7 separate regions of the Homo sapiens genome follow, and all the other regions are linked to region 2. The links come from fine-mapping of genetic effects on plasma protein levels. Region 2 holds a variant in brackets. A gene starts in each other region. All regions are shown on their reverse strands. Distances are between the middles of the regions.

Region 1 (4,063 bases), not on the chromosome of region 2:
CACGAAGCGGCCCTAATAACCCTAGAACTCTAAGTCCCCCGGGTGATACTACAGGGCAGCTAATGCTGAGAACCTCGGTTCAAGCCCAGGAATTGTTTTCCCAGGGACTGTAACACGATTCTCTGTGAAGTAGCCAGGAGCGCCAGTCTTCCTCCCCTTTGTCCAGGTTAGGACTACCCCCAAGAGGCAATAAAACATTTCCCCAGAGCTGCCAGGAAACCTGGAGGCGGGGTGGGGGCGGGGGGTGAGGGTGGAAGGAGAGGAGAGGAAGAGAGCAAGGGGAGGAATTTACTAAGTCAGAAGCAGCAGAAAAGTTAGAATAAGGAACAGCGCTGGTCCTCTGCCACCCTGGCCCCCACCCACTACAAATTTTATTGACTGGCATGAGAATTTCCTTAGAATGCTTCCTGGAGGTGGCTCAACCTTGGATTTGGTTCCAATAAATTGTGAAAATTCTTGTCCAATCAGAACCCCGGGCAGTGCAAGCAGCCAGATTGGCAGGCCCTGAGCCTGGACTCCTGTGAGATTCTGTTTCACGAATTTCCCAGGAGGATTTCTGCACCACTTGGATGCCAATCGCCCTGCCTCCACACCCTCCCTTGGCTCTTACCCCCCATGTTCTCTCCCTCAAAGCTCAGTGGAGTTGGGAATCATAGATAGGCTGGTAAAGAAATCACCCAGATAGTCTACGCGGGAATCATTCCAGTAAGTAATGCCGTTAAAAGATGAGCGTCTTTGACGTGGCTGGGAGACCCGTGTGCTCCTTTGGCGAGTGTCTGCTCACCCACTTCAGGGCCTGGGCACAACCACCGTCTCACATGGGAAGGAGGCCCGTGAAGCCCCACCCCGCCGCGCAGCTGCAACCATCCCGGGCGTAGCCAGTGCACCCATGATCTGTCCGCTGACAGCGCGTCCCTCCATCCTATGTCTGCGCTAAACTAAGTCAGCTTATGAATGAAAAGCAGTGCAAACCGGAGGCACTGACTCCGAAGAAAAGAGTCTTCTCTGCACCCTTCTCATTTACAGATGAGAAAACTCAGTGGGGTGGGAGGGGGGAGAAAGGGCGATGTGACTGGGTCCGGGTTTGCCACAGAACATTTGTGGCGGAGCTCCATTTAGCCGCCCGTGAATTTCCATTCTGTTGCCTGGCAACCGGTTCAGAGGAGCTCAGCGCCCAACCCCGGCCCCTACCCCGCACCCTTTCTCTGCCCGTGCAGCTTGGGCTGCATTGATCAAAGGTTCAGCCTTTGGGGACAATGGCCAAGGGCATGTGAGCCGGGGCACAGGATGGATTACCCCAGTTGAGCTTTCATCCCGCCCCAAACAGAAGCGAGCCCCGCCCGGCCGGGATCCGAGCGCCTTCCGCGGTCCTTTTGGGACTTCCCTCTGCAACCTCCCCTAGTGCCGTGGATACCTCTAAACATACTCATGCCAAGTTTTCAAAGTTCCCAGCCGCTGTCGGATTCCCTAAAAGTCTCGGTGGGAAAACTGCACTCCAAGTTAGGGGGCAAAAGGCGGCAGTTTAGAGGGGAAAATCGTACTGAAGAGCCCTCTTCCCAGGATGGCCACACTCGGGCTGGACTCTCCTGCTGCAGTTGAGTTAACCTGGCCAGAGCTGGGCAGAAGTGAAAAAAAGCGCGGAACGTGCTCAGGGAGTCCGCAAATACACGCCCGCTGGGGACAGCGCTCCCGGAGCCCCGCGGCCCGGCCGGCCAGCCGCCTCTGGGGGCCTCGGCGCGCAGCCCTGCCCGCGGCGCGGGGGAGCGCATGTGCCGCCCACCGCCGCGCAGGTGGCGGGAGCACAGCCTGCCTGTCCCCGCGTTCTCTGGCGCACCAGGCGGGACCCGCGCGCCGGGAGCTCCTCCACCCCCTCACTCCATCCCCTGGGCCCGGGACACTGAAAAGGGGGAAATGTTCTCGTCATTACGTTACCCCAAATCCTTACCCAGGTTCACAAAGCTCATGACCATGTCCGCGTCGTTGAGGAAGGCGCTGTCCTGCGCGCTGGTCAGTGGGGACGCGCCGCCGCTGCCAGATCCGGGGGCCAGAAGGCTCTTGCGGTTGAGCGGGTGCGCGGCGCCCGGGGGCGGCTGCCGACGCTGGGACGAGCTGGCTGCTTCGTGGGGCCAGGACTGCTGCCTCTCCCCCTCCGACGCCCCGTCCTCGTCGTTGTCGGCGGACAGGGCGTTGTACAGATCCAGCATGAAGAGGGGCGCGGACTTCAGTCGCCCGGGAGGGGGCTCTCCGCGAGGCAGCTGCTGCTGCTGCTGCTGCTCCTCCTGCTGCCGGAGCGCCGGGGGCTGCGGCTGTTGGAGGCCGTGCAGGGGCCGGGGCCGGTGCGGGAGCCCCAGCACCGACAAGATCTCCTTCTGCATCTCCCGCTTCTCCTGCGTCTTGAGCCGCCGGTACAGGAAGCCCGAGGAGGACTGCGGCGACGGCGGCGGCTGCTCCGTGCGGCCGGGGCTCCCGCCGTCCCCCAGCAGCTGCCCCCCGGCGGCGGCGGCCGCGGCAGCGGGCAAGGGCGGCCGCAGCGGCGGGGGCCCGCAGCAGCTGCACAGCAGCCCCCACCACCAGCACAGCCACTGCGCCCTCCGCCCCAGCCCCGGCATCCCCGCCCGGCCGGGCTGCCCCCGCGGATCCCGCGAGGCGTGGAGCGGCGGAGCGAGGCCGGAGCGCGGCCGCTGTGGCCCTTGGCGTGAGCAGTCCCCGCCACCTCTCGGCGGGCTCGCTTCCCCTTCCTGGCCCTCAGTCCTTATCTCTCATGGTCGTCCGGGGCGCCCCCAGTTGCCCAGGCTAGAGAGGTGGCGAAGGGGCGATCACCAGGAGAACCGCTTGGAGGGGAGGAAGGGGAGCCTCACAGCCTCGCGCAGGTCTCTAGAGGCGCGCGGTCCAGGCCAGGTGCGTCTGAGTCCGGGCTGCACTGCAGCCTGCGCCCTGGCTCCTGCGAGTCGCGGCGCGGTCACTCTGGGCCTCGCTGGCCGCACACGTGCGCTGCCCCGCGCTCTCCCTGGCGACTGAGTGGGACCCGGGGCAGCGGGGAGCGGGGCCGCTCACGAGCTGCGGGAGATGCCCGGCATCACCGTGGCGCACGCCCCTCCCCAGATCGCAGGGCCACCATGAAGTTTACCCCGTTGCAGGGCCCAGGCTGCGGCGACAAGGCGTCCCGAAATGCCAGTCTATTCCGCGAGGTTTAACTTCCTTCTCGCTCACGAACTCCGCGCCCCTGAGCTCTCGGGCACCGTCGCTCCCACTCAAAATCTCCGCGCGCCGCACGCCTCCTCAAGCGGAGGCGGCGAGGATCTTGCTTTCCGTTCGGCGGTCGCCCGGCTGCCCAGCAAACCCGCTCGCAGAAAGGATGGGAAGGAAGGGGGCTAGTGCACCGAGCAGCGGCCGCGGCGGCGGCGCCGGAATTCGGTCTCCCGCCTCTCCACGCCGCGCTCCCCGCAGCGGCCAACGTGGGCTTTCTGCTGCGCGCCCGGCTCAGGTACCTCACTCCAGCCCCGGGACTCCCCGCCCCGCGGTAACCGACAGGCTGGCAGCCAATGGGGACGCGAAGCTCGCGGGCTATTTAAATAGCCCCGCCCCTTCTTTCACCCTCCCTCTCCCGAGAGGCGTCGCCTCCGCCGCGCGTAGGTTTCAAGACCCGGGAATTCTTGGAGGCATGCGAAGAGCCGCGAGGTGCCAAAGGCGAAGAGGTCATCGCTAGTAAGAATGATCTGACCAATACCCCGATCTGAAGCTTTCTCTTTTACCATCATTTAAAAGGCCTAAGTTGATGCTTTAACTAAATAAAAATAATAACAGCGATTAAATCACTATACTGCCAGAACTGAGGAAGAAAAGAAAAATGATAGCTTTTCCATCCCTTCCTTAGTTTCTCTTATTGATGTAATGTAGGCGTTTAGCGGACACGTGGCTTTCCACGGCAGCTGCTGGAAGTTGGGACACACCCTCCGGGGAGGCTACTCACAAACTGACCACAGAGAGGGCCACATGTAACCCAAGCCAGCGTCCTGAGGGTTTGGGGTCGGATGTGTTGACTTCTCTGTTCATTTGTGCTTTG
Region 2 (4,053 bases):
CAACTTCTATCAGTTTGATCCAGGTCTTTTTTCCTTTGAATTCAGTTCTATCAGCATCTATAGAGTGCTTGCTGTATGCAATACTAGTCATTTCAAGAGGAGGAATTTAGCTTCCTTTCCCATTATCTCCACCAGCCCCCTCACTCCAGAAGCACCTCAAATAAGCTTACCAGCTAAGCATGTACACTGTAGTCGCTGTGCAAACATAGCTTTGAGATGGCCACCCTGCCACCTCCCACATGACTCCCTGAAGTCCTTTTCTTCTTTGTCCTCTCCTGTCACATAAAATTCAGAATTTTCAGGAGAATTTCAGAATTTTCAGTAGAGTTTCAGAATTTTCAAGATAGAAGGGAACTGAGGGTCACCCAGTTCTGTTTGGTAACAAATGTGTTCCACTTCTTCCCCTAGCCAGAGTCCCAGGACAGAGGGTTAGCTCATTATGTCTTTGGCTCCTCTTTTATCCCTAACCTCTCGGGTATAAAATGTAAGTGATTAATGTTCCACAAGACTTGGACTGAAAAACTTTAATCCAGTACATTCTGTTTGATCAAAACAGGGTCCAGGAAAGTTAAATGACTTGTCCATAGCTGCCACAGTCTGTGGGTAAACAGGGACCAAAACCCAAGGCCACTTGATCCCCCATGCGTGGCCTTCCTATAAAGCCACTTGCCCATGGTGTGGACATGATTGCCCTGTGGGTACGGGGCATGCTGGGGCCAATGACACGCTATCTTTGGGGAAGGGTGTAGCTTTGTGGTTAAGACCATCAACGTTCTGGCAGACTAAGTAAGTTCTGGCATGGCTATTTAGTAGCTGTGTGATCTTGAGCAAGTTACTTATCTTCTCTGAGCCTCCATGCCCTCATTTATACAACAGGGCAGTACCCTCTTCAGCAGGTTGTGAGGATTCAGTAAGGTAATATATGTCACATGCTTGTCACAGGTCTGGCATAAGGCAAATGGCACCTAACATTATTTTCTAGCTTTTCAGCACTCAGGTGTGAACTTCCCAAGTCATAATGGTTCTTTCTGTTCCAGCTGAAGTTAACTCAAACCTGTCTTTATTACTCCATTTGTTGAAAGAGAATCTGATATGGAACTTTTTGCTTGGATGATGTGCCACACATGTAGTCTACTGTTAGAAATTGTTTAAAAATCTGAGTTTCAGAGCTGTCTTTCCAACTGGTTGGTTGGTTCCTGGGTTTTGAAGAGATTCGTTCCTCCTCCAGACTTATCTCCTCGCTCTGTTTGGGACCATAATAAACCTAGCTACTGTTTATGAAATTATTACTATGTGGTAGCCCCTTAACCAGGTTTCTCTCTAATCTTCACCTCCACCCTTTGAAGTAGGTGCTATTTGGTCCTGATTGCAGATGAGGAAACTGAAGTTCTGAGAGACTGAGTAACTTGCTTGATGGTTGATATTTTGGTGGTTCTCCCTCGTGGAAGGTGGAAGAGCACACTGTGCTCTGTAGTTTTCTGGATGTGAGATTATGTCTAGGGTGACTCTAGCACTTGGGGTTGACACCTGACAAGGACTTGAGTGAGCATCCAACCCCCTGATTGATCAGCAGGGGAAGCTGGTGAGCAAAAACGTCACAGGACTGGACCCAAGTCAGCACTGCTTCTCATTCAGTGTTCTTTCAGTCATATCATATAGGCTCAAATCCTTGACCCTTGCATCATAGGCTCTGGCCTCAGGACTCCCTGGTTTGTGACTGGCCTGTGAATTAACGTTCCGCTTCAGAATTGGAACTTGAGGTTCTAGAAGCAAGGTGCTTGCATTTGAACTCCAGCTCTGCTGCTTACTAGCTGTGTGACTTTGGGCAAGTTGCTTGAACTCTCTGTGCCTCAGTTTCTCCTACTATAGAAGTACTCATTTCATAGGATTGTTGTAAGGATTACTTGAGATACTTCATTAAAGTCAAAGCACAGTGCCTGGCAGAGAGCAAACACCTCTTCGGCTCTCAGCATCATTTACTGAGCTCTCATCACTTGCCAGGCATCTTTTGGCAATGGGGATGTAGCCTTGTACAAGCGATTCATGATTCTTTTGGAGCGTACAATCTAGTAGGGGAAACAGATGCTAGAGAATAATGAAGATTATGATTTATTAAGTAATTCTAGTGCTATTTGTTATTTATGGGGCACTATTTAGAAGTTGCTGCAAGGTATCTTTGTTTTTAGTTCTAATTCTTATAAATGGACAACATTAATGTAAGTAAGTATTTTGGGTAAGAAGTTTGGCCAGGGTTGCACAGAACCCTCAGCTTTGAGAAGCCTGTGGTTTAGCATCTCATGCCAGCAACCATCTAGATGTGTATTTTTGTTTTGTTTTTTAGAGACAGAGTCTTGCTCTGTCACTCAGGCTGGAGTGTAGTGGTACAATCATAGCTCACTGTAACCTCCAACTCCTGGGCTCAAGCCATCCTCTTGCCTCAGCTTCTAAAGTAGTTAGGACTATAGGAATGCACCATCATGCCCTCCTAAATTTTTACATTTTGTGTACAGACAGGATCTCACTATGTTGGTCAGCCTGGTCTTGAGTTTCTGGCCTCAAGTGATCCTCTTGCCTCAGCTTCCCAAAGTACTGGGATTATAGACATCAGCCACCAAGCCCAGTCAGTCATCTGTGTTATATCCAGAACAGAATTAGGTATGGCCCTACCACTTAGATGCAAGCAGCCCACCCTTGAAGGGCAGAAGGGAAGCTGTGACTGGGCAGAATCCACAAGGCAGCAAGACTTGGTCCACTGAAGGAACAGATAGCTCTCATAGTCATAACAGGCCTGTAGGAAGAAGACAGTGTAGGAACCAAATGCTGTTGTAAAGAT[A/G]ACACAGGCACTATGTAACCGAGTACCTATTTTTAAGTGACAGTGGTATATTTTAGGCCAGTTCTATCCCATTTGTAGTCTGTCTCCATTTTCCCTCAGTAATTCTTTTCTCATAGTTGATCTTTCCTCTGTTTCAACCTCTTGTTTGCTTTGCCATTTGATATTAAAAGAATCTATATGCATATGCATTTCTTGACAAATGAGTACATTGAGCTTAATTTTCTGATGAGCCTTCATAAAATATTACCATGCTGAACCAACCCAAAATGTGGGCTGCCTATACCAAACATGCTAATTTTAGACAGGGTGCTTTCATCAGTACATAAGATATGAATTTTTATTTGAAAGCTTTCCTGAAATTAAATAGCATAAAATCAAGATAATACTCCATATACACTTCAGTCTTTGCTGTTTAATAGAATCACAGAAGCATACACATTTATGTTTAAATCACCTTGTTATATGGTTCAAGAATCTATGTCTCAGAGAGATCACTTGACTTGCCCAAGACCACAGACTTAATGGTAGGGCCAGATTGTATACCATGTCTTCTTTTTTTTTTTTTTTTAATTTTTTTAGAGGTGGGGTCTCGCTCTGTTGCCCAAGCTGGAATGCAGTGGCACGATCATAGCTCACTGCAGCCTCAAACTCTTAGGCTCAAGCAATCACCCTGCCTCAGCCTCCTGAGTAGCTGTCACCATAGGCATATGCCACTGTGCCTGGCTAATTGTTATAATAATAATTGTTATTATTATTGTAGAGATGAGGTCTTACTTTGTGGCCCAGGCTAGTCTCAGACTCCTGGGCTCTAGTGATCCTCCCACCTTGGCCTCCCAAAGTGTTGGGATTATAGGTGTAAGCCACTGCACCTGGCCCATGTCTTCTAATTTAGGTCAGTTCACTCTTCACTCTGCTGCTTCTTTTATATATGTGCAACAGTCATATCCTTTTTTGAAATTATAAGATTAAATCAAAGAATTAATGTCTTTGGAAGCAAGGAGTGTTGGAAAAGTTCTCCAAATTCCACCTTTTTTCCTTAATTCATTTAAAAAAAAAGGGAGAAGGATGATTTATTTACCGGAAGGGTTAATAATAGCATGACGTGCTAACTGTATGCTTAGAAATCTGACATACATATTATCTTATTGGATTATTCATGTGTTTTTAACTCATTAAAACCTTGAAACTCTCATATCCCCATTTTATAGATGCTTAAACTG
Region 3 (4,065 bases), not on the chromosome of region 2:
AGTTCAGAATCCAAGGAGAGGAAGACCAGGTGTGGTAAAGCAACCAGCCTGCCCAGCAAGTCTCCTCGCTCAGGCCGAACACCCAGGGCCAAGCAGCCTTGTGTCAGTCAGGGCTCTGCCCTCCTCTCGCCAGCCCTGTTTCCCTCAAGGAGGCAGGTAGTTGCATCTTCCTCCACTCCCCAGTTCTCTCCATTTGGGTCTGAGGCAAAGCTAACACCCATGAGGGAAATGATTCATGCAATAAATTTTAGGCCGGGCATGGTGGCTCACAGCTATAATCCCAGCACTTTGGGAGGCTGAGGCTGGAGGATCCCTTAAGCCCGGGAGTTTGAGACCTGCCTGGGCAACACAGTGAGATCCCATCTCTACAAAAGACATATTAAAAAAATAGGTGGGTGTGGTGGCTAGTGCCTGGAATCCCAGCTGCTCAGGAGGCTAAGGCAGGAGAATACCTTGAGCCCAGGAGTTCAAGCTCTTAGTGGTCTTTGGATGACTAAACTTCAACACATCTTAGCTCAAAATCTCCGATCACACCACTGCATTCCAGCCCGGGCAACAGAATGACACCCTGTCTCTAAATAAATAAATAAATAAATGTTAATTGTGTAGCTATTATGTGCCAGGCACAATGTGGAAGGAAGGGGATACATTAGTGAATAAAACAGATCCTTCCTGCATGGTACTTAGTTTCTAAATGGAGACACACCATCAACAAGCAACCATAAATACGTTCTTGCAAACTGAGAGAAGTGCTATGAGGAAAATGTACAGGATGCAGGGGTGGAGGATGAGGAGGTCGGCTACCTTAGATGCCGTGGTCACAGAATGGCTCTCTGTAGGAGATTTTGAGCTAAGATATGTTAAAAGTTTAGTCATCCAAAGATCACTAAGATTAGTCTATAGTCTGACAACTTAGTAACTATTGACTTATGGCAGGGCAGAATGGGTGAGGGGAGGGAGGAGTCGTTGGGTTAGGTTCCTCTTGAAGGGCTCTAATAAGACCCTGATAGACCGACCAGGTTACAGTCCGATGGTCATAATCCAGATGAGAGATATCAATCTTTAACTGGGGTCCCGAGCATATGGGGTAGAAATAACAAGGGTTGTTGATGGATTAGATGTGGGATTTGAAGTTTAGGTCTACCAAATCCCTGGGACCCTTGCAGTCAGCTCTTTCTTGGGGAATGGGAAGTGGGTTCCAGCAACCTGAATTCAAGTGCATGACGAAACCAGAAAAAGCAAACGCCAAAATCAAAACTCGGAGCCTCAGAATACCTGCCAATAGATGCATATGCCCCAGCTTTCCGTGGAGGGCAGTTTACCAGAGCCCAGTGCAATTCCTAATTTCCATAAAGAACCCACATACAAATAAAGTCTGTCTAGTTCACTATGGTTAAGGTAGTCAGGAAGTGTGCCACATTTTACAAAATTTTCCACCCAAAATGTTTTTTTTTAATGGTGCTTAAAGGAAAAATTCTCATTTACCTGGAAAACTTAACTCCCCAAAGGGAAGTTTCGTTCAGATAGCTAAAGCATGCCAATCCCAGTCCCCAAGGGAACTGCAACAACGTCTCACCGGGCGCACTGCCTTCAGCAGTCACTTTCGAGTTTGTTGCCAGGTGTCCGAGCGGGTTTGAACGTCCGCGTCAATCCACACAGTACAAACCGGAGGAGGGGCCGGGACCACGCTTCCCCTCCAGGACTGCCTTTTGTACGTGTGTTTTGTTTCTGTTGCTAAGGTTTAGGGAGCTGCCCGGCTACCCTCACGGATTCCCATGGAAACTACCACCTCCCAGAGGACAGGAGGAGAGGCGAATTCAGGGTCCACCCACGGGCCCCGCCCAGGGATGGGGTCACTGAGGGTCCGGGCAGCGAAGGGCGGGGCCCGGGAGCTGGGCATGGGCGAGGCAGGCGCGAGAGGAGAGGGGCGTGGCAGGTCCGGGGCGGGGCCTGAGTGCGCCTGCGCAGTCCGCGCCACTCAGGGAGCCGGAGGGGACGCGCCGGAGGAAAGATGGAAGACTACCAGGCTGCGGAGGAGGTAACCGCCGGGTCGGCGACGGAAGGGTGGAGGCCTAGAGCCCTGGCCGCGGAAGGACACGCGGTCCTGCCCGGAAAGGCCTGGCTGCCCACCTCCTTCAGCTAGGCCAGTCTCGGCAGCCCACGGCCTGAGCTTCCCGGTCGCCGGCGCTCCGCCCGGCCCCATTCTGCCCGGACATTGCCGCCGTTTCCCCGGCGCGGGGGGCGGGAAGGGGATTGAGCTTCTTCCCGCGCGGGGAGGCACCGGGCGTGACTCGGAGAGAGCGCCCCGGTGAGCGGTGCCGAGAAACCTTCCCGCAGGGCCTCGCCTCCGGCCCGCAGCCAAGCTCGCCGAGAGGATGACATCACCGCCCCTTGCTCTGCGGGGCTGACCCCAGCCCCAGCCCCAGCCTGGAGCGGGGCGCGGCGGCCGGGCTGGGAGCGCCGAGGCTTGGACGTCTCCCCGCGGAGGTGCGGGTGACGCTCCCGCCGCCAGCCCCTCCGCCCCGGGCTGGCGTCCCGGCCATCCCGCGCCTTTGTCTCGGGCCTCACCTGGTTCTGCAACGCTGGGAATGAGTAGCACATTTCATTTCCGTTTAATATGTCTGTAAGAAAGCTCATTGTTGTGGGGAAAAAATCATCTTTTATGCCTCCTTGAGGAAGTAGGATAAAGCCCACGATGTCGCCAAGCAGAAGACACCCATCGGCACCGTGTGCGTTAAATGGCTTTCCTTCAAGCTCACGGTCATTCGGGGAATAGAGCTGATGGGCGCAGCTGAGATACAACACTCATTTTCTTCTTACTGAATAATCCTTGTTGAAATTCAGATAGAGCCCTATGGATTTATTATGCAGCCTGTCAAAAATATAAACTATAGATACATTTGGTAAGGTTGGATATCTTACCATTTATGAAATTTAGTGGCTGGGCGCAGTGGCTCACGCCTGTAATCCCAGCACTTTGGGAGGCCTAGGCGGGCGGATCACCTGAGGTCAGGAGTTCGAGAGCAGCCTGACCAACATGGAGAAACCCCGTCTCTTTTAAAAATACAAAATTAGCCGGGCGTGGTGGCGCATGCCTGTAATCCCAGCTATTCGGGAGGCCGAGGCAGGAGAATCCCTTGAACCTGGGAGGCAGAGGTTGCCGTGAGCCAAGATCGCGCCATTGCACTCCAGCCTGGGCAACAAGAGCGAAACTCCGTCTCAAAAACCAAAAAAAAAGAAAAAAATTTCGTTTAAGGAGGAATGTTTTCAGGGAAAATAAAACTAAAACTTAAGGACTGATTCTAGAGTTTCAGTTTTGATCTGATTTCCTAACTAGCACACACTTCCTGTGACAGTGGCATAATCAGTGTTTGAATGCTGATGGCAACCAAGTGAATAATGACGAGAAGAGCTGGTTCAGGAGCAGTTGGCAAAGAAAAAAGCCTTTCCCCTTAAACTGTTACTAATATAATATTGGAAAATGTCTTGTATTACAGTAATATCGAGTAAAACTTCTAAAAAAGAAATCGCTTTGTAAAGGAAAGCGCTTAATACTGCAGTCCGATTCTGACTCCCACAAATAAGGTGGCTAAGTGGCTTCATTATTCGAGATCTCAATCGCATATGTGTAAAATGAAGGGGCTGGACAGAGTGATGAGTGTTCTACCTGGGATGGAGGCCCTGGGAGGTGGAGACCATGGCTGTCTTGTAGTAGGCATGTCTTAGGTATTTACTGAATGGCCCGTTCTGGTCCTCCCACCAGCCTCTTAGCAGCCTTTTCTGCATCTCTTCTAACTTCGTGTAGATGCCTGGGCCTTTGTAACTATTCTCTCAACTCACCATTCATCTTTCTTGGAGACGTTAAAACTATCCACTGGATTCAATACAACTCTGCTTTCCACTAAAAATTCTTTAAAATGTCCCTCAACCTTTTTCGTACTGTAACCATATGGGAGGTGATACAGTGCCTTTCCTTTGTGATTAAGGTCACGGTAGTCACTTGGAAGGATCCTTTAAGCTTCCAGAAATGACTTAATCTCTAAGATATTGCAAATTGTTCTTCAC
Region 4 (4,059 bases), not on the chromosome of region 2:
AGAGCCAAATAACTGCCACATTGGAATGCATTCCGCTGGGGGTTCCTGTATTTTATATATGAAAGCTTCCTGGCCGCATGTGTGTTTTGGTTGGCTTTAGTGGCAGGACTGAAGGGTTTTGCTTTGCTTTTGTTATGTGAATGGGGAAAGGGGCTTTGCCACTCATGGCCTCATTAACAACAATGGTGCCAAGATGCGGACTTTTAAGTGACTTTTACTTTATAGATTCTGAAAACCCACAACTTGCTAGTTGTGAGTGACAAGCATCTTTCTGAGAACTTTCTGAAAATTCCCCACTTCCAAGTTTACACAGCCTTTAGTAGACTTAAAAAAGAAGAGAAAAATACCAAACAGTTCCTTTGTTGAGAAAGCAGCCTACATATAGATCTGATTGTTCATGGTATGTTTGAGTCCACGAAGTAGAAATGAACAAAAATTATTGCTTAGTTTTCCTGATGTCAAATCAGTTTTGTTTTAAAAATGTCATTAGTAATTTATTAGGTAAAATGTTAGCTAAGCTAACTCTAGTTAATTTACAAAGTTTTGGCTTCATTTTGTTATGATGAGACTTTATAAACCTGATCTTTAAAATAAGGTTCTTAAAATTTTTAAAAATTTATTTTATTTATTTTTTGAGACAGAGTTTCGCTCTTCTTGCCCAGGCTGAGTGGCAGTGGCATGATCTCAGCTCATTGCAACCTTCACCTCCCAGGTTCAAGCGATTCTTCTGCTTCAGCCTCCCGAGTAGCTGGGACTACAGGTGCTCGCCACCGTGCCCAGCTAATTTTTGTATTTTTTTAGTAGAGATGGGGTTTCACCATGTTGGCCAAGTTGGTCTCGAACTCCTGCTCAGGTGATCCAACCGCCTCGGCTTCCCAAAGTGCTGGGATTATAGGCGTGAGCCACGGCGCCTGGCCAGGTGTTTTTTTTTTTTTTTTTGAAACGAATCTTCTTCTATTTCACAAGTGGAAATCATCCAGGAAATGTGCACCTCAAGGGAAATCCAGTGAAATCTTGATTCTGGGTAGAACATATGAGAAAAGAATAGTGTAGCACTCACTGCTTGGCTATTTGGGATAGGATCTGTCTTAGGTCCCCATAAGCGCTTTTATTTCTGTGTAATTTACTGCAAAACTCTATGAGGTAGGACTAATATTATCTTATGTCAAGGGTTAAGACAATTGAGACTTGGGGGTTTGTCAAAAATAAAAGATTTTCTGACTTTGGAGTGCGATGTGCATTTCTGTTGCACAGATCTCCACCAAGGGCAAATTCGATGGCAATGACAATTTGATGTCAGAACTTCTCAGGAAAGGCTCTGATGAACTCATTCACACTGCATGTGAATGACTGAGAAAACTCGATGTATTTTCACTTTTTTTTTTTTAAGAAGTAAACCTGGGTGTTTTGTAGTTCTATGAGAAAATGAAAGCTGAAGCTAGGCTATAGATGAAAAGTTCTATTCATTATTACAATTTAATAATGCTTCCAAAATAGCAATTCACTTAAATATACCTAGTTAGGGTGTTAAGAAATACTTTGATTAAAACCACACTGCAAAATAGGGAACTTCAATGGACTGCTTTAAACTCTCGACCTCAAAGGAAGGAAATCAACTAACCGATAATGAAAACTAGCAGAAAAAAAAAAGCTTAGGATCCGTAACAGATTCGGAGTCAACAATGACATGACTCAGCATTTTGGGGTTCAATTAAAACCAGGCTTGTAGGTTGCAGGTCAAGTTGTGTTTCGGTGTGTAACGCATAAAACTTCTTGTTCCACGCTCCGCGGTGTTGGGGATTTTCTACTGCATCTCGACAGCATCTCGGGTAACAACCGAGCCCCTCCTCGCAGCGTAAGTCGTAGGAGCCCTCGGCCATTCTTCCCCCTCCCTCCCGCCGCCGGTCCCAGCATCGGTCCGGGTTCGCTTCTACGCAGGTTCAGCGGCCGCGGACACAAAAGCGCCCCTGCTCGCCTTCGATGCCGCTGCTTGGTCCAGGGGCTTCTGTGGGATTTTAACACGCTAAGGAGGGCACTCATAGTGTTTTACCGAGAAACGCTTTCGAGCTCGGATCTTTGGTGATCACTTCAAGAATGTATTAGTTTTCTTTGTAGCTTAAAAAAAAATCTCGTTCGCCAAGCCACCTGGCACCCCAAACACTGCTGCGAGCGCTGGGAGGGAAAGGGCGGGAGCGCGCGGGCTCCGTGTGCTGCGAGGGCGCCTGGGCGGCTGAGATAAGGCGGTGGCAAACGTCGCGCTCCGGGCCGCCCCGCCAGACTCGGTTTCCCCCGCTCACCGGCCTCCCCGCCCCCAGGCAGGGTGGGGCGGGGCGGACGCGCCACGGCGCGCGACCAATCGACAGCGCCGGGGATGATTCAAAAGGTCGAGGAGCCAATGGGAGCCCCGGGCGGCCTCGCCGGTGGGGAGGGGAGGCGAGGGGAGGGGAGAAGCGCCGCGAGGCGGGGCCGGGGAGGCGCGCGCCCGGCTTGCGGGACTGCGGGGCGCGAGAGCGCGGCCGGGTAGCGTCGCGCGCGTGGATCTGCCGCCGGGTTGCTGTGCGACTATTCTCCGGGAGCCGTCCGTGTCACCGCCGGAACCTGGCGCAGGTGAGTGCTTCCACCCCCGCCCTGCTCCCAGCTCCCCGCGGCGCGTTCTTCGAGGGGCCGCTGGGGGAGGAAGCCCGAGGCCGGCGCAGCGGCCGGGCCGGGGACCCTGGGCGCGGGGCCTGGCGCGGCGGCCTTCCCCTCCTCTCCTCGCCTCCTCGTCTCCTCCCCTCCTCGCCTTTTCTGGCCCAGTCGGGTGGTCGGGGCGGCGGCGGGCGAGGCTGGAGCTCGCCCGAGCCGGGCCCGCTGCGGAAATGGAGCTGGGGGTTTTAAACTGCGGACGTTTCCCTCCATGTTGGCGGCGCGGCGCGGCTGTGGAGCGGCGGCGGCAGGGAGGGTTCGTGGGCGCCTTTGTCCTGCCCCACCGCAGCCTGGCTCCCGGCCCCTCCGAGCGCCCGTCTGACAGATGAGCAGGCGGCCCCGCGGTCCTGCAGTAGGAGGCTGACAGGGCGCGGCGGCCTGGCGGGACGGGGAAGGGTCTGCGGCCGAGGTGGGCTTAGATTCGCGCTGCTTGTCACTGGCTTTGAGGGTCGTGGTCGTCGCGGTTTGGTGATTCTCCAGGCACACTGCATGGCTGCTCGCTCCTATGCGTTGAATTCCTTCGCCCGGACAGTCTCAAAAATCGGGTATTTAGGCGGGTGTGCGTGTTCCTGCTAAAGCACGGTCCTGCTTTTTCACCTTTTTGAGGGTTCAGAAAAATGTTCTAATGACAGCCAGCCTCGCACTGCCAGTAGCCTCAAGGGGCACTTAGTAAAGCACTTGCTTTCGGAGGGCTTTGTTGAAGGCGCTTTCCCAGAGTGATTACGGGGCCCGGTCGGGTGTTCACACGAGGGCGCGGTAGATACCGTGGTCCGCGCGTGGACACCTGCAGCGCGAGGCGCGGCGCCTGGGCAGTGCCAGGGTGAACAGGCCCCCGGGGACCTTGCACGTAAACACGTGTAGATCTGTAGTTACGCATTGTAGTAACTGGTGTGTGGGAGAAGATGGAGCTACGGAGAAGAGCAGAGGGATCCTAATTTAGATTAGGCAACAAGTCCAGTTTAAGTTTTGTTTCTCAGGCTGCCTGGGAAGAGGGAGAAGAACGAGCAGGAGGGGAATGATGAGCTGCCCAAGGATGTTTATGGGGAAGAAGGCGCTTCTGCCTTTACAGCCAGGAAGGTGGCCTTTCTGTTGCTTCATGAAGCAAAGGGCGCGGAGCAAGGCCCGGGGTTCCTGTTTGCATTTTGCCTAGTGGGGCTACCGGGGCTCAGGTGTGAAAAGGAAGCTGTCCAACGTCATTCGAGCGTCTTGCTCTATGCCACGTTTAGATGAATTTGGAGAAGTGAAGGAAAGATGGCTGGAGACCCCTGTAATGTTAATGAGCAGAGAATTGTTGTGTTCACAAACAGTAACATACCGGAGCTGGAATGTGTGAGGATTGCAGTGCCAGTTGACTCTGAAGTTAGCGGGCATCTG
Region 5 (4,065 bases), not on the chromosome of region 2:
CCACTTTTCCCTTGACAGGGGTGATTCTAACATGCCATGTCCCTGTGACATGGGCAGTGACAGTGTTTGAAGTGTGGTGGAAAGGGGACTAGGCTAACAGCCAAGGGAGCTGGGTTCCTATCTTAGTTCTGCCACTCTGAGAGCTTGGCCAAGTCACAGTACCCTTTTCTGGCCTGTTTCCTCATCAGCAAAATGCATGGCTAAGGCTAGAAAATCTTCAAGGACCTTGCCTGATATAATGATGATCCTAAGTGAAGGAAAAAAGAAGTGAAAGAGTTCATTTAACTCTCTTTTCATCTAAAAATAATTAAGGATACATGACATTCTATCAATACATACTGCCAAATTAAATTTTTGTTTGTTTGTTTTTTGAGACGGAGTCTCACTCTGTTGCCCAGGCTGGAGTGCAGTGGCGCCATCTCGGCTCACCGCACCCTCCGCTGTCTGGGTCCAAGCGATTCTCCTGCCTCAGCCTCCCAAGTAGCTGGGATTACAGGCGCCCGCCACCACGCTCCACTAATTTTTGTATTTTTAGTAAAGACAGCGTTTTGCTATGTTTGCCAAGCTGGTCTTGAACTCCTGACCTCAGGTGATTCTGCCCGCCTGGGCCTCCCAAAGTGCTGAGATTACAGGCGTGAGCCACCGCGCCTAGTCAGCCAAATTAAATTTTTAAAGAGCCACAGATGTACTATCTGACTCGAAAGACAATATGACCTGTTAGTGCCAGGTAACTCAGGATTATCGACTACCTTTTTCAAGGCCCTTTCCATTCCACAGCTGTCATGTCTGCCAAAGGATAGAGTTTCCAGGTCCCTTGAAAATACCTGGGAAACTGAGCCATCTGGATATTCCTTAATCATGTATTCTCCACAAGCTACAAAGACCTACCACATAAAGTCCTTTACTTGCAATGGTGTTTCCAATAATAGAATAAGTTATATTATCCATATTTTACTCAGCTCCAACCATGGTCACTTGTTGGCTTGCATGTGAAGCAAGAATCCAAGTGATAGAAAAGAGTTAACACGTCCAGTGGGGTTGAAATAATATACGAGTGGGAACATTAGCTCCCAAACTAAGCTGGGTCAGTGGTGGAGGGGCAATGGATTAACTGTAGAGGCAGGTCACGACACCGTCTTTCCTCCTGCCTAGAACGTCTTCTCCGACAGCTGCAGCATGCAAAAGGCAAGGCGCTTCAGGGATCAAACCTACTCGTAAAGGGGGACACTGAGGCCCAAAAAGAAAGTAACTTGCTCAGGGTGACGCAACAAGGCTCCACCTCCGCCTCGAAGCCAACGGCGATGACATCCAGGCGAGGGATTACGGAACCACCACAGCCTGGGCCCGCGGGAGGGGACGGGACGCCACGACCCGTGGGGCGGCAGCCGCCGCCTCAAGACCCTCGCCGCCGCCAGGGGTGTCACTTCTTCCCGAGGAGCCTCCCACCCTGCCACACAGCACTGCAGCGCTGCCCTCCGCAAGACAAAACTGCCCCGCAACCCTCCCGGGCCGCGGGAGGGGCTCCAGGGCCTTCAGAACACCACTCCCACTATCACCCCAGAGGGTGAACTGCGGTGAGAACCGAAACTTGCCACACCTCTACCCCCGTGGCCCCTTCTCAGGACTGCAAGTCTGAATGTGGGCACCCCGAGGGCCTAACTGCCCCTTTCCACTTGAGGCACTCACCAGGGACAGCAACCAGCAGCGGCGCGACAGCAACAGGGCAGAGTGGGACGGGGGCGGGGCTAAGCACCCAAGGGAGAGCCCGTCCCGCCTGCCCCGCCCACACGTCACAACGGTCAGCAAGCCCCGCCCCCGCGCGGCGCTTGCTGGGACTTGTAGTGTTCAGGTGACCGGGCCCCAGGAGCGGTCTTCTGCCTTTGATGGCTCTCCTAAGTCCTGAGCAGCAATCTCACCGAAATAAACCTACTTCATCCCCTGGAAGAAGCTGTTTACTTTTCTTTTTTTTCTTTTATACCTTTATTTCTTTTTTCTTTTTCTGTCGTCCAGGCTAGAGTGCCATGGTGCGAACACGGCTTACTGCAGCCCCGACCTCCCGGGCTCAGGTGATCCTCCCACTTCAGCCTCCTGAGTAGCTGGGACAACCACGGTGCCCATACGGCGCCCGCCACCACGCCAGGCTAATTTTTGTATTTTTAGTAGAGATGGGGTTTTGCCATGTTGCCTAGGCTGGTCTTGAACTCCTGGGCTCAAGAGGTCCAGCTGCCTCGGCCTCCCAAAGTGTTGGGATTACAGACCTGAGTCATCGCGCCTGGGCTACATCTTTATGTCTTTCTTCCCTGAATGAGAAAGCTTTATACATTTGAAGGGCCATTAAGAGGTCATCTTCATTTTTCTCCTGGGTCCACTTAACACTACTTCACGAAGAGTCTTTATTTTTTTTGAGACAAGGTCTCACTCTGTTGCCCAGGCTGGTGTGCAGCGGGGCGATCTCGGCTCAGTGCAACCTCTGCCTCCTGAGTTCAAGCTATTCTCGTGCCTCAGCCTCCCCAGTAGCTGGGATTACAGGCACCCGCCACCATGCCCGGCTCATTTTTTTGTATTTTTAGTAGAGACGGGGTTTCACCATGTTGGCCAGGCTGGCCTTGAACTCCGTCTCAAAAAGAAAAAAGAGAATAAACTCATGGCCAGGCACAGTAGCTCACGCCTGTAATCCCAACATTTTGGGTGGCCGAGGTGGGAGATCTCTTGAGCCCAGAAATTTCAGATCATCCTGGACAAGATAGGGAGACCCTGTCTCCACAAAAAATAAAAAAATTAGCCGGGTGTGGCGGTGGGCCCCTGTAGTCCCAGCTACTCAGGAGGCTGAGGTGGTAGGATCACTTGAGCCTGGGAGGTGGAGGCTGCCATAAGCCATGATCACACCACTGCACTCCAGTCTGGGAGACAGAGCGAGACCCTGTCTCAAAAAAAAAAAAAAAAAAAAAAAAAAAGAATAAACTCAGTAAGAAAAGAATTCTGCTAAGTCAATTTAAAGAAAATCCCCCATCCTTAATATCTAATAACCCTGGCCTGCCTTCAACAAGAGTCCTGTTAAGTTGGTTTAACAAGAATCTCCTTTTAGTAATTTTCCATGCAGTGACCCCTCACTCTGCTTGTTGGCTATAAATCCCACTTGTCATTATTGTATTCAGAGTGCAGCATAATCTCCCCTTTGGTCCTGAATAAATTCTTCCTTGCCATTTTAACAAGTTTCAGAATATTTTTTTCTTTAACATCCAGAAGATGTTAAATGCTGTATATGCTGTCTATGAAAGATTAAATTTGGAAGTGCCCCTTCTTCCACTGTTTAAATGTGGAAAGAAATTTTTCTGTGCCATCTCAGGCAGGGGAATGAGCATTCCTTTTTTTTTTTTTTTTTTTGTCGAGACAGAGTCTTGCCCTGTCGCCTAGGCTGGAGTGCAGTGGCATGATCTGGGCTCACTGCAACCTCCACCTCCCGGGTTCAAATGATTCTCCTGCCTCAGCCTCCTGAGTAGCTGGGACTACAGGCGCCCGCCACCACGCCCGGCTAATTTTTGTATTTTCAGTAAAGACGGGGTTTCACCATATTGGCCAGGCTGGTCTTGAATTCCTGACCTTGTGATCCACCAGCCTCAGCCTTCCAAAGTGCTGGGATTACAGGCATGAGCCACCACACCCAGCGGGAATGAGCATTCCTAATCTGCTTCCTCACAAGACTGGTGGCATTCAACTGAGATGAACGGATGGTGGGAAATGATGAGTAAGCCAGGAAGTGGGTCATCCGTCTAAAGTTCAAATCACCTTCTGAGTTACCAAAATAATATCTTCCATTTTAAACTCGGTCTGCAGGGACAAGTGCCCTCAGTATCCTGGATACATTTCCCTTAATTTTACTTATTAGATTTTCTAAAAGCACTGAGAATGAAAACCATCTGCACCCACACAGCTTATTGTCTACATTAACATGATAACTATTTCAGTAAATTAAAAATGAAGGCTGGCCGGGCATGGCGGCTCACGCCTGTAATCCCAGCACTTTGGGAGGCCGAGGCGGGCGGATCATGAGGTCAGGAGTTTGAG
Region 6 (4,065 bases), not on the chromosome of region 2:
TATTTCCTTAATGTGCTGCCTGTCTACTATAGAATATAAGCTCTGTGAAAGCAGGTCCTGGGCTGTCTTATTTATTTCTATGTCCCCAGTGCCCCCCAAAAATGTTCAGTTAATGTTTATGATATAATTGAGTTAATGAGATTGCCTCAGCATGAATTGTGATTCCTTTTCTTTGCTCAGAGACATCCAAGATTCTGAGAGGGGAAGTGACTGTCCCAAATCCAATTCAAGCTTTTTATCTTCTTTTTTCAGGCCCTTCCTGTAAAACCTGGCTGACACACAAACCTAGCTGGGGTGAGGCTCCAGGTGTGATGAAAGTTTGGAGTTGCCCCATGAATGGGACTGAGGCTGATGTGGGGGTGAGAAGGCGGAAGGACAGAGCATGTGAAGGGAGAAAGGCAGGCTGGGGCAAGAGAGCAGGGTGTGACTCTGGCGAGGGTGGGGGAAAGGGGGTGATTTGACCATGTGTCAGGAAGTGTTTCTCTCCACCCTCCCCTGGGGAGAGCCTTGACCCCAAGGTGGCTTTGTTTTGGGGAAGCAGGTGGCCAGGCAGCTGCTGAGGGAGGGCAAAGTCATGGCTTGGGCGGTGACCATGCACTGAGGTCCTAGGCCCGATACTCATCACCCAAAAGGATAATCTAACAGTGGCTCTTAGCCAAATAGGTGACAGGTGAGCTTCTGTCTGAAACCAGCCCAACTATATCATAAAGCCTCAGATATGGCCTAGGGGAAGGCAAGCGATCTAGAGAAGTGAGAGAAAAGAGGCCTCTAAGGAAATAGAGTGGTCAAGTGCTTAGTGATTATTATTAACAGCAACAATAATAATGGGTCACATTTATTGAGAGCTTATAGTGTGCCTGGCACTATACTAACTACTTTTATGTGTTCCCGCATTCATTTCTCAAAAAGCTCCCTACAAAGTAGTCATTATTATTATTGTTATTATTTTTTCCATTTGAGAGACGTCAAAACTGAGGCTCAGTGAAATTAAGTTTCTTGTCCAAGGTCACACAGTAAGTAGCAAAGGCAGGATTCAAACTCAGGTCTGTAGTGATTCCAGTGCACTATGGAAACCTAGGCCTAGGTTACTGGAGCAAGTTAAGAGGGCAGGGCCAGACTGACCCCTGCAAAGGTGGGGATAGGGAGGGACAGTGGGATAGACTGTGTATAAATAGCAGGCCTGTTTTTATCCCTACACACAGGCAGAATCCGGCAAGTGCTCTATCTGGCACAATTTCAGGGCTCTGAAAGCCAACCCAGCCCTGTGTCAAACAACTCTCTCCCCAGCACGTCCCTGGAAACTGAAATACCTACTGAGACACTCATTTCTTTGGGTCAGGACAGTGACTCCAGAAGACCCCTGCAAAAGCACATGGGTTGGAAGAGAAACACCTAGTGTCTGTGAAACAGCAATCTAGGTTAGCCAGCTGGGTCCTATGGGAGGGTGGCTCATTTTTTATGTTGAGGAAAAAGGTGGCAGTCAAAGGCAAGGAAAAGAATAAGGCTTGTTTCACAACCTGTGTCTCTCCAATCTCAGAAGCCTGGGAATTACAACCCATAGTTCAAAAATCCTAATGTCCCCTGAGGGAAGATGGGAGGAAGCCACTCCAGAGACTAAGAGAGTACTAACTTCCTTTGCTTTTGCTGGATTGATACTAAGTGCCTGCAACTTCAACTCTGGTTATCTCGGGTTTATGAGAACGGCTGGCATTCACGTGTCTAATTTTTAAATGATAGATGAATTAATTATTATTTGATACTTGCCGTGTTGGTAGGCCAAAAGGTGGGCTTCTGAAACTTAGAGGGTGACAGGGATGGAGACCCCTGGTATGGGGCTTAGATGAAGCAAGAGGCCAGGCCCGGAACAGAACTCAGCTCAGCAGTCAGTCACAAGGCTGCAGAGTGACAGGCGTTTGGGGAAAGGTAGGAACCGCTCTCCGCCACCTGCCGGTCAGTAGCCCTACCCACAATCAGGCCGCGGCTGCCTCGGCCTGGTCCCAAAAATTGTGAACGCCGCCCTCTCCTCCCGCCCAGTCCTCCGCCGCGCCCGCGGGGTCGGGGGCTGCGCTGCCGGCGCCGCGAGCCGGGCGAGCTTCCCAGCACGGGAGGAGGGAGGGGGCGGCGCCGGGCGGGGCGGAGCTTCCGCGCCTCCTGGAGCCTTATTCCCGGCCGCGAGCCGGGCAGCGCTCATTCGGCCGAAGGAGCTACGCGGGCCACGCTGCTGGCTGGCCTGACCTAGGCGCGCGGGGTCGGGCGGCCGCGCGGGCGGGCTGAGTGAGCAAGACAAGACACTCAAGAAGAGCGAGCTGCGCCTGGGTCCCGGCCAGGCTTGCACGCAGAGGCGGGCGGCAGACGGTGCCCGGCGGAATCTCCTGAGCTCCGCCGCCCAGCTCTGGTGCCAGCGCCCAGTGGCCGCCGCTTCGAAAGTGACTGGTGCCTCGCCGCCTCCTCTCGGTGCGGGACCATGAAGCTGCTGCCGTCGGTGGTGCTGAAGCTCTTTCTGGCTGCAGGTAAGAGGGCTGCCGACGCCCCCGGAGATCGGGGGGATGGGGGCGTTGTGCTGGGGGCATGGGGGAAGGTCGCCGCAGCGCACCCGGCACGGGCCACTTGGTGGGGCCCTTGCGCTCTGGCGGACGGGCGTCGGCATCGGTGCGTGTTGGTCAGGGGTCTGGGCGGGTGTCTGATGCGGCCTGGCCTCTCGCCCGCAGTTCTCTCGGCACTGGTGACTGGCGAGAGCCTGGAGCGGCTTCGGAGAGGGCTAGCTGCTGGAACCAGCAACCCGGACCCTCCCACTGTATCCACGGACCAGCTGCTACCCCTAGGAGGCGGCCGGGACCGGAAAGTCCGTGACTTGCAAGAGGCAGATCTGGACCTTTTGAGAGGTGGGTGTGGAGGCCCCCCATCCTTGGACCTTGGTGGGCTGTTGAAGAATAAGCAGATCCAAGATTCTTGCTGTTTGGGCAATACTGTGGGTTGAGGGTATTCATGGAGAACCTCGGGGAAAAGCTGATCGGCCTGATGGGCACTGGGGGATCCTGGAATATAGGTCCCACTCTCTCTCTCTTGTCATTGCCTCACCTGCTGGGTTGCTGCCCTTCTGGGTACTCCGGGGCAAATTGAATCAGACGTGTTGTCTGGGGTTGTTACGTTCTTCTTAGGTAAGCTGGGTGATAGGAACAAGGAATGGTTGAGATGCTTTCCCTAGAGCTACTATGTAAAAATGGGCGCCAGTTCTAATTCCCATATCAAATGACTATTATATATAAAATAGAGGTAACACATGCGGAGATGCCCAGGCACATCTCTAGAAAGTGTGCAGTGTTGGCCTCCTCCATCCACCTGTCTCCAGATTGGGGAAACAGAGGGGAATGAGGAGCTCTTGGCCGCCCTAGATGAGGCTGTGAATGGTGAGCACTGAGCCCCTAGGGGGCTGTATTAAAATGCTGGATATCTGTGAATGCTACCGGAAACCTGCAGCTTACTGAGCACCTTGCATTCCTGAGGAGACTCCAAATGGGGAGGGCTGTGTAGGATCCTCCAACCAGCCTCTTTGGCTGTGGCCAAGTACAGGTACAGGGCAGAGTCCAGAGCCTGCCAGCTCTCCTGCCTCCAAACCTGAGGAGATTATCCAGAGTAGAGCAAGGACTCAGCACTGTACCCTGGAATGACTATATTTGGTTGGACAGATGCCCACCTGTTCTAGTTCCACCTGCTCCTCAGCTGCCCTTCTCCCTCATTCCCAGGAGCTTTCCTTGGATACTCTCTCTACTTTGTATAAATCAAGCACATACTCCAAAACTGAGCCTGGGCTCCCATACTTCATCCTCTCCCAGTGGCCCTCTGGGGTTGCCCATGACCTGAACAGCCTGGATTCTCCTGGCCCTCTCCTCCTAGGCTGGGCAGGGCTGGGCTGTGACTCACCCCACCCCCACCCCCCACCCACACGGCTGCTCCTCTTACCTCTGCAGACCTGACTCACTGCTCCCTGTCCATGGCAGGAGCCTGGCTGTCACCCTGCACCTTCTCCCTCCCCTTTCTGATTGGCTTGGCCCCCCTGCCTTGCTC
Region 7 (4,057 bases), 31 Mb after region 2:
TTAGGTCTCAGAGTAAACAGCACGCTTGGAGGATTACAATCGACCCGAGGCCAATTCGACCCTTTCCCTTTGCCGCCCTCAATTGACCCTTGAAGCAGCCCCTGCTCTCCCTTCAAATGGAAAACCCACAGACACACACACAAACAAAAACCCCAAGTCTTCCTTTCGGTTGCTACCCGCAATGACGTTTCCCCCCTCGGGTCCCGCCCCTCCAGGGGGCTTGGAATTTTGGGATTGGCCGAGAGGCTGTGGCGACAAGGCCCGGATTGGACAGCATGGCGCTGACTGACAGCGGGGGCGGCCGCCGCGCCCTCCCTCTCTCCCCGGTGTGCAAATGTGTGTGTGCGGTGTTATGCCGGACAAGAGGGAGGTGACCGTGGCGGCGGCGGCGGCGGCTCTGTTTATTGTCCCTCTCGGTGTGTGTGTGTGAGGAAATCGGGGCTGCAGCGAGGCTAAGGCTGCCTTTGAAGCAGCGGCGGCGACCGGGACGACTACTCTGGCGACTCGAGTGGCTGGCCTTCGCGGAGTGTGAGAAGGACAAGGCACCTCTGCGTCCTCGCCACGTCCGAGCGCCTCGGGCTCCCCGGCCGCCCTCGCGGCTCGCACGCCCGGGCTTCAGCCCGGCCTGCAGCGGCGCCCGCGGGCGGGCGAGAAGGCAACGCCGCCGCTCGGCCGCCGCCGGTCGCTCCCTGCTTTCTCCTCAGCCGCCGCGCTAGGCCCGGGCGACGCGGACGCCGCGCCTCGAGTTTGAGGGCAGCCGGCGGCGCGGCCTCCTCAGCGGGCTCGGCTGGACGTCCGCTCCGGATCTTCGCGATGGGGCGCGGGGGTCGGCGCGGCTAGGAGTGCGGCGAGTGGAGCGGTGGGTGCGGAGCGGCGGGGCCCAGCGGCCCGCAGGGAGGCGGGAGCGGCGGCTGCGGCCTCAGGGCCTGTGAGCTGGAGGCACTCGCCATGGCCAAGTCGGGTGGCTGCGGCGCGGGAGCCGGCGTGGGCGGCGGCAACGGGGCACTGACCTGGGTGGTAAGTGGCTGGTCCCCGGGACGGGCGGCTGCATTGTTCCGGGCCCGCGGCGGGGGCGGAATTCCGAACGGGCGGGGGAGGGGAAAGGGAGGGAAATCCCGTCCCCCGAACGGGCGCTCCATAGGGGCCTGTGCTTGCAGAATCCTCCAGCCCGCTCCCCGCGCCTTTTCTTTCTTTCTTTCTCTGTACGTCTCTGGAAGTCCTGACTGCCAGAGCGTAATGTGTACTTGAAACTTTGGGGGGACAAAACCGCGAACGTAACATACAGCCCCCGCTTCCTCTCTTTTCTTTTTAACCAGACTCTTCCGGGGCAGCCGAACCTGAAATGGTGGGGATGGCGATAATGCAAGTGTGTCTGTGTGGGGCAGCATTTTCTCCAAATGTAGTTCAAGAAAACCCTGGGAAAAGGGGTGTGTGTGTGTGTGTATTCTAAATGCAGCTCTTTCTGGGGCTTTAATCTCAAAGAAGAATGCATTGGGATTTCTACAGCAACTTGCACTTCAATTTGGAAAGCCTCATTCAATGCGCTCAATTGAGAGCGCATTGGGGATGACTTTCACAGCAGTTAATACTGTAGGTCGTCCCTCTGTCAGGGTGAGATTATTAAAAGAAGTGCTTGTCTACGTCAGCATCGCAGGTGTAACGGGGTGAGGGCTGAATGGATGTCCTGGAGAGGTGACTGAAGTGCTTAGTCCTGAAGTTAAAGGATTTCGACGCTCAGTTCTTGCTGGGAAGTAGAAGTAACTGCAGCGGAAGGAGGAAGGGAGACTGGATTCCCACGACAGATCGATAATTCGCCGGCATTTCACTTGCTCAGCGTAGAGTTCAGACCAGGGTCATTTCCTATACAGAAAACCTAGGTATTTCGGAGAAAAGTAAAAAGTGTTACATTTTTCTGGACTTTTGACGGTCTGTTCCCCCGTCCCTGTTTTAAATACCTCAAGGGAGCTTTCATATAGGCATTTTTGTTACTTAGTTCGTTTTCTCTTTGTTTGGGTGAGGTTTGGGTGAGTTGAATAGCAATTTGTGCTATATTGACAACTGCTTCTTATAAAAAGGGTGCTACTGACAGCAGCAAAACATTTTAATCACTTATGTTTGCGTGCCAGGGTACATTGCAAAATAACTTGCCATGCTCTTATTGTTGAAATTCTTTGAATGTTGTATATTACTCCGATTATGTAGAATGAAAGTATGAAGGGACTAGGGCCAGGAGAGAAAATGTCAGATACTAAGTTAGTGGTCCATGTGGACTTGCAGTAGAGGGTATGTGAGAGGAAGAAGGAGGAGATGGACACATACATGCAAAATAATGACTTTCAGAATTAATGGCTTTTACCCCTGTCACTAAAATCAGACATCGGAAAATTGACTTAGACAGCCAAATGGTATTGTAAGTTCTCATTCACTATTTGGAAGTGTTGAGGCCTGATCGGTGTTTCCTCTGAAGACCTCTGGTTCTATAATGGTAAACATTTTGCTCCGTAGTGGATTGTTGGCTTTAACATTTGATAGCAGTACTTTAATTAACTGTTATATAATTTTGTAGATAATTAAATGACAATTTATTTCTTTCAAGCTCCATAGGAAACTCATTGCTAATTTAGCAAAACTTGGAGCATCTCATTCAAGATAGAAAAATCCATTTGAAACTGAAATTGACTTATTGATTAAAGGAATTTTCATTATAAAGCAGATTATGGAAAATATGGGAAATGCAGTAAAATAAAGAGAAGTGAAGATCACTTAGTGTTTTATTTATAGAGTATATCTTATGGAATTAGAAGTTTATTAAAAAGATAATCACTCCTGTAAGTCTTCTTTAAGAGTTGATGCTTACTCTAAGGTTATATGAGCATCTTTATGTCCATAATATACATCATTGATCATATAGACTGGTTTGATTTTATGGGAGGCAATATAGTGAGGTAGTTATGGGCTTTGACGTCAGGCTGATGTAGGTTCAGATACTGTCTCTCCAACACATTTAGTTGGACTTTTCCCAAGGAACCTAACCTTTCTAAGCCTGTTTTTTTATCTGTCAAATAAGGTTGCATTGAGAATGAAATGAGATAACGTGTGTAGCACAGTGCTGGGCTTAATGATGTTTGTTATTATTGGTGAACTTCAAGAAATGCACACTCAAATAATAGATTGCAGTTGCTTTTACATAAAATATCTTTTAGCTGGGGTAAAAGCAAATTAATTTTTCCTTTGCACGAGTTGGGGCTTTATTGCAGTGGTCATCTGTTTTGAGAAAGGTAACTTCGTCTGCTTTATTGAAGCTAGTGTTATGTTGCCACCTGCTTGTGGTAACAGAAAGAAATAAAAATAGAATTAGCCCCTGATTTCTTTCTTCTGGGTGAGGAGTTGTATGCCATGTGTTGCTGATATTAACTACTGTTGGGATGCATGCCAGCATGTGTTGTTAATGTCATTGCATGAAAATTTGCCTTTCAATATCTGAAACTACAAAGCCAAGTGGTTTTAGGACTGGCATTAACTTATTTTAATAATTCATTTGGTTTGTGTTTGATTTGTAGGAGTATCTCAACCAGAATTTTTTATAATTAAAAAAAGTGAAAAATATAAACATGGCAAAGCTATTTTGATTTAAAATGTATAGCAGTTACAAAGGCTTCTCTTAAGGCAGCAGGGTTTCTTGAATTAATTCTTTGTAGAGCTTTGATTAGTAGATAGTAATAGTCTGGTTCATTCTGTCAGTCTTGTATCATAAGTGATTGTAACAAAGACATTTGTGGAAATACTAGAATACAGTTATATGACTTAATCTTTTTCCCAACAATATTCTAACTTGGTAGATTAAAAAAAATTTTTAATGGAAAATGTTAAGCATCTCAAAAAGTGGTAACCAGAGTAGTATAACAAGCTTCCCTCTATTTAGCCTTAAGCTTCAATAATTATCAACCTGCCGGGTGCGGTGGCTCACGCCTGTAATCCCAGAACTTTGGGAGGCCAAGGCAGGCGGATCACCTGAGGTCAGGAGTTCATGACCAGCCTGACCAACATGGAGAAACCC

Direction of the effects. Alleles are on the strand shown, and positions count from the first base shown. The strength of an association depends on the size of the effect and on how common the allele is.
For the plasma level of the protein whose gene starts at base 3,466 in region 1, A is the high allele of the variant in region 2 and G is the other (strong association).
As copies of G replace A in region 2, the plasma level of the protein whose gene starts at base 1,977 in region 3 goes up (strong association).
As copies of G replace A in region 2, the plasma level of the protein whose gene starts at base 2,523 in region 4 goes up (moderate association).
For the plasma level of the protein whose gene starts at base 1,730 in region 5, A is the low allele of the variant in region 2 and G is the other (moderate association).
As copies of A replace G in region 2, the plasma level of the protein whose gene starts at base 2,190 in region 6 goes up (moderate association).
For the plasma level of the protein whose gene starts at base 339 in region 7, G is the high allele of the variant in region 2 and A is the other (moderate association).

The links. PIP is the posterior inclusion probability: the model's chance that the variant is causal. The UK Biobank Pharma Proteomics Project read protein levels with antibody pairs (Olink). The fine-mapping took linkage between variants from a reference panel, not from the people measured, so its PIPs are less certain.
Region 1: BMP6 starts here. The variant in region 2 is fine-mapped to the plasma level of the BMP6 protein (UK Biobank, PIP above 0.99).
Region 3: DYNLT1 starts here. The variant in region 2 is fine-mapped to the plasma level of the DYNLT1 protein (UK Biobank, PIP above 0.99).
Region 4: it holds the start of LBR, and the variant in region 2 is fine-mapped to the plasma level of the LBR protein (UK Biobank, PIP above 0.99).
Region 5: CALCOCO2 starts here. The variant in region 2 is fine-mapped to the plasma level of the CALCOCO2 protein (UK Biobank, PIP above 0.99).
Region 6: it holds the start of HBEGF, and the variant in region 2 is fine-mapped to the plasma level of the HBEGF protein (UK Biobank, PIP above 0.99).
Region 7: it holds the start of TOP2B, and the variant in region 2 is fine-mapped to the plasma level of the TOP2B protein (UK Biobank, PIP above 0.99).

The regions. Positions count from the first base shown.
Region 1 is chr6:7,725,502-7,729,564 of GRCh38, reverse strand. BMP6 (bone morphogenetic protein 6) reads right to left here and starts at 3,466. Exons shown (of 7, transcript NM_001718.6): 1 at 1,946-3,466. The coding sequence starts at 2,609.
Region 2 is chr3:56,814,502-56,818,554 of GRCh38, reverse strand. It overlaps a transcript of ARHGEF3 not described here. Among named protein-coding and RNA genes, the nearest start is that of ARHGEF3, 15 kb to the right of the region's middle. The variant A/G (reference allele first, on the strand shown) is at 2,834.
Region 3 is chr6:158,642,655-158,646,719 of GRCh38, reverse strand. It overlaps DYNLT1 (dynein light chain Tctex-type 1), which reads left to right and starts at 1,977. Exons shown (of 5, transcript NM_006519.4): 1 at 1,977-2,038. The coding sequence starts at 2,012. It also overlaps a transcript of SYTL3 not described here. RefSeq lists silencers at 1,820-2,049, 2,210-2,539 and an enhancer at 1,663-2,606.
Region 4 is chr1:225,426,502-225,430,560 of GRCh38, reverse strand. LBR (lamin B receptor) reads left to right here and starts at 2,523. Exons shown (of 14, transcript NM_002296.4): 1 at 2,523-2,607. RefSeq lists a silencer at 2,107-2,936 and enhancers at 2,769-3,440, 3,441-4,059.
Region 5 is chr17:48,828,700-48,832,764 of GRCh38, reverse strand. It overlaps CALCOCO2 (calcium binding and coiled-coil domain 2), which reads right to left and starts at 1,730. Exons shown (of 13, transcript NM_005831.5): 1 at 1,687-1,730. RefSeq lists a silencer at 1,315-1,474 and an enhancer at 845-1,726.
Region 6 is chr5:140,344,728-140,348,792 of GRCh38, reverse strand. It overlaps HBEGF (heparin binding EGF like growth factor), which reads left to right and starts at 2,190. Exons shown (of 6, transcript NM_001945.3): 1 at 2,190-2,510; 2 at 2,709-2,882. The coding sequence starts at 2,465. RefSeq lists silencers at 1,906-1,955, 1,996-2,275.
Region 7 is chr3:25,661,189-25,665,245 of GRCh38, reverse strand. TOP2B (DNA topoisomerase II beta) reads left to right here and starts at 339. Exons shown (of 36, transcript NM_001330700.2): 1 at 339-1,017. The coding sequence starts at 949. It overlaps MIR4442 (microRNA 4442), which reads left to right and starts at 307; the gene lies at 307-373. RefSeq lists enhancers at 39-602, 1,560-1,689 and silencers at 770-1,129, 1,084-1,272.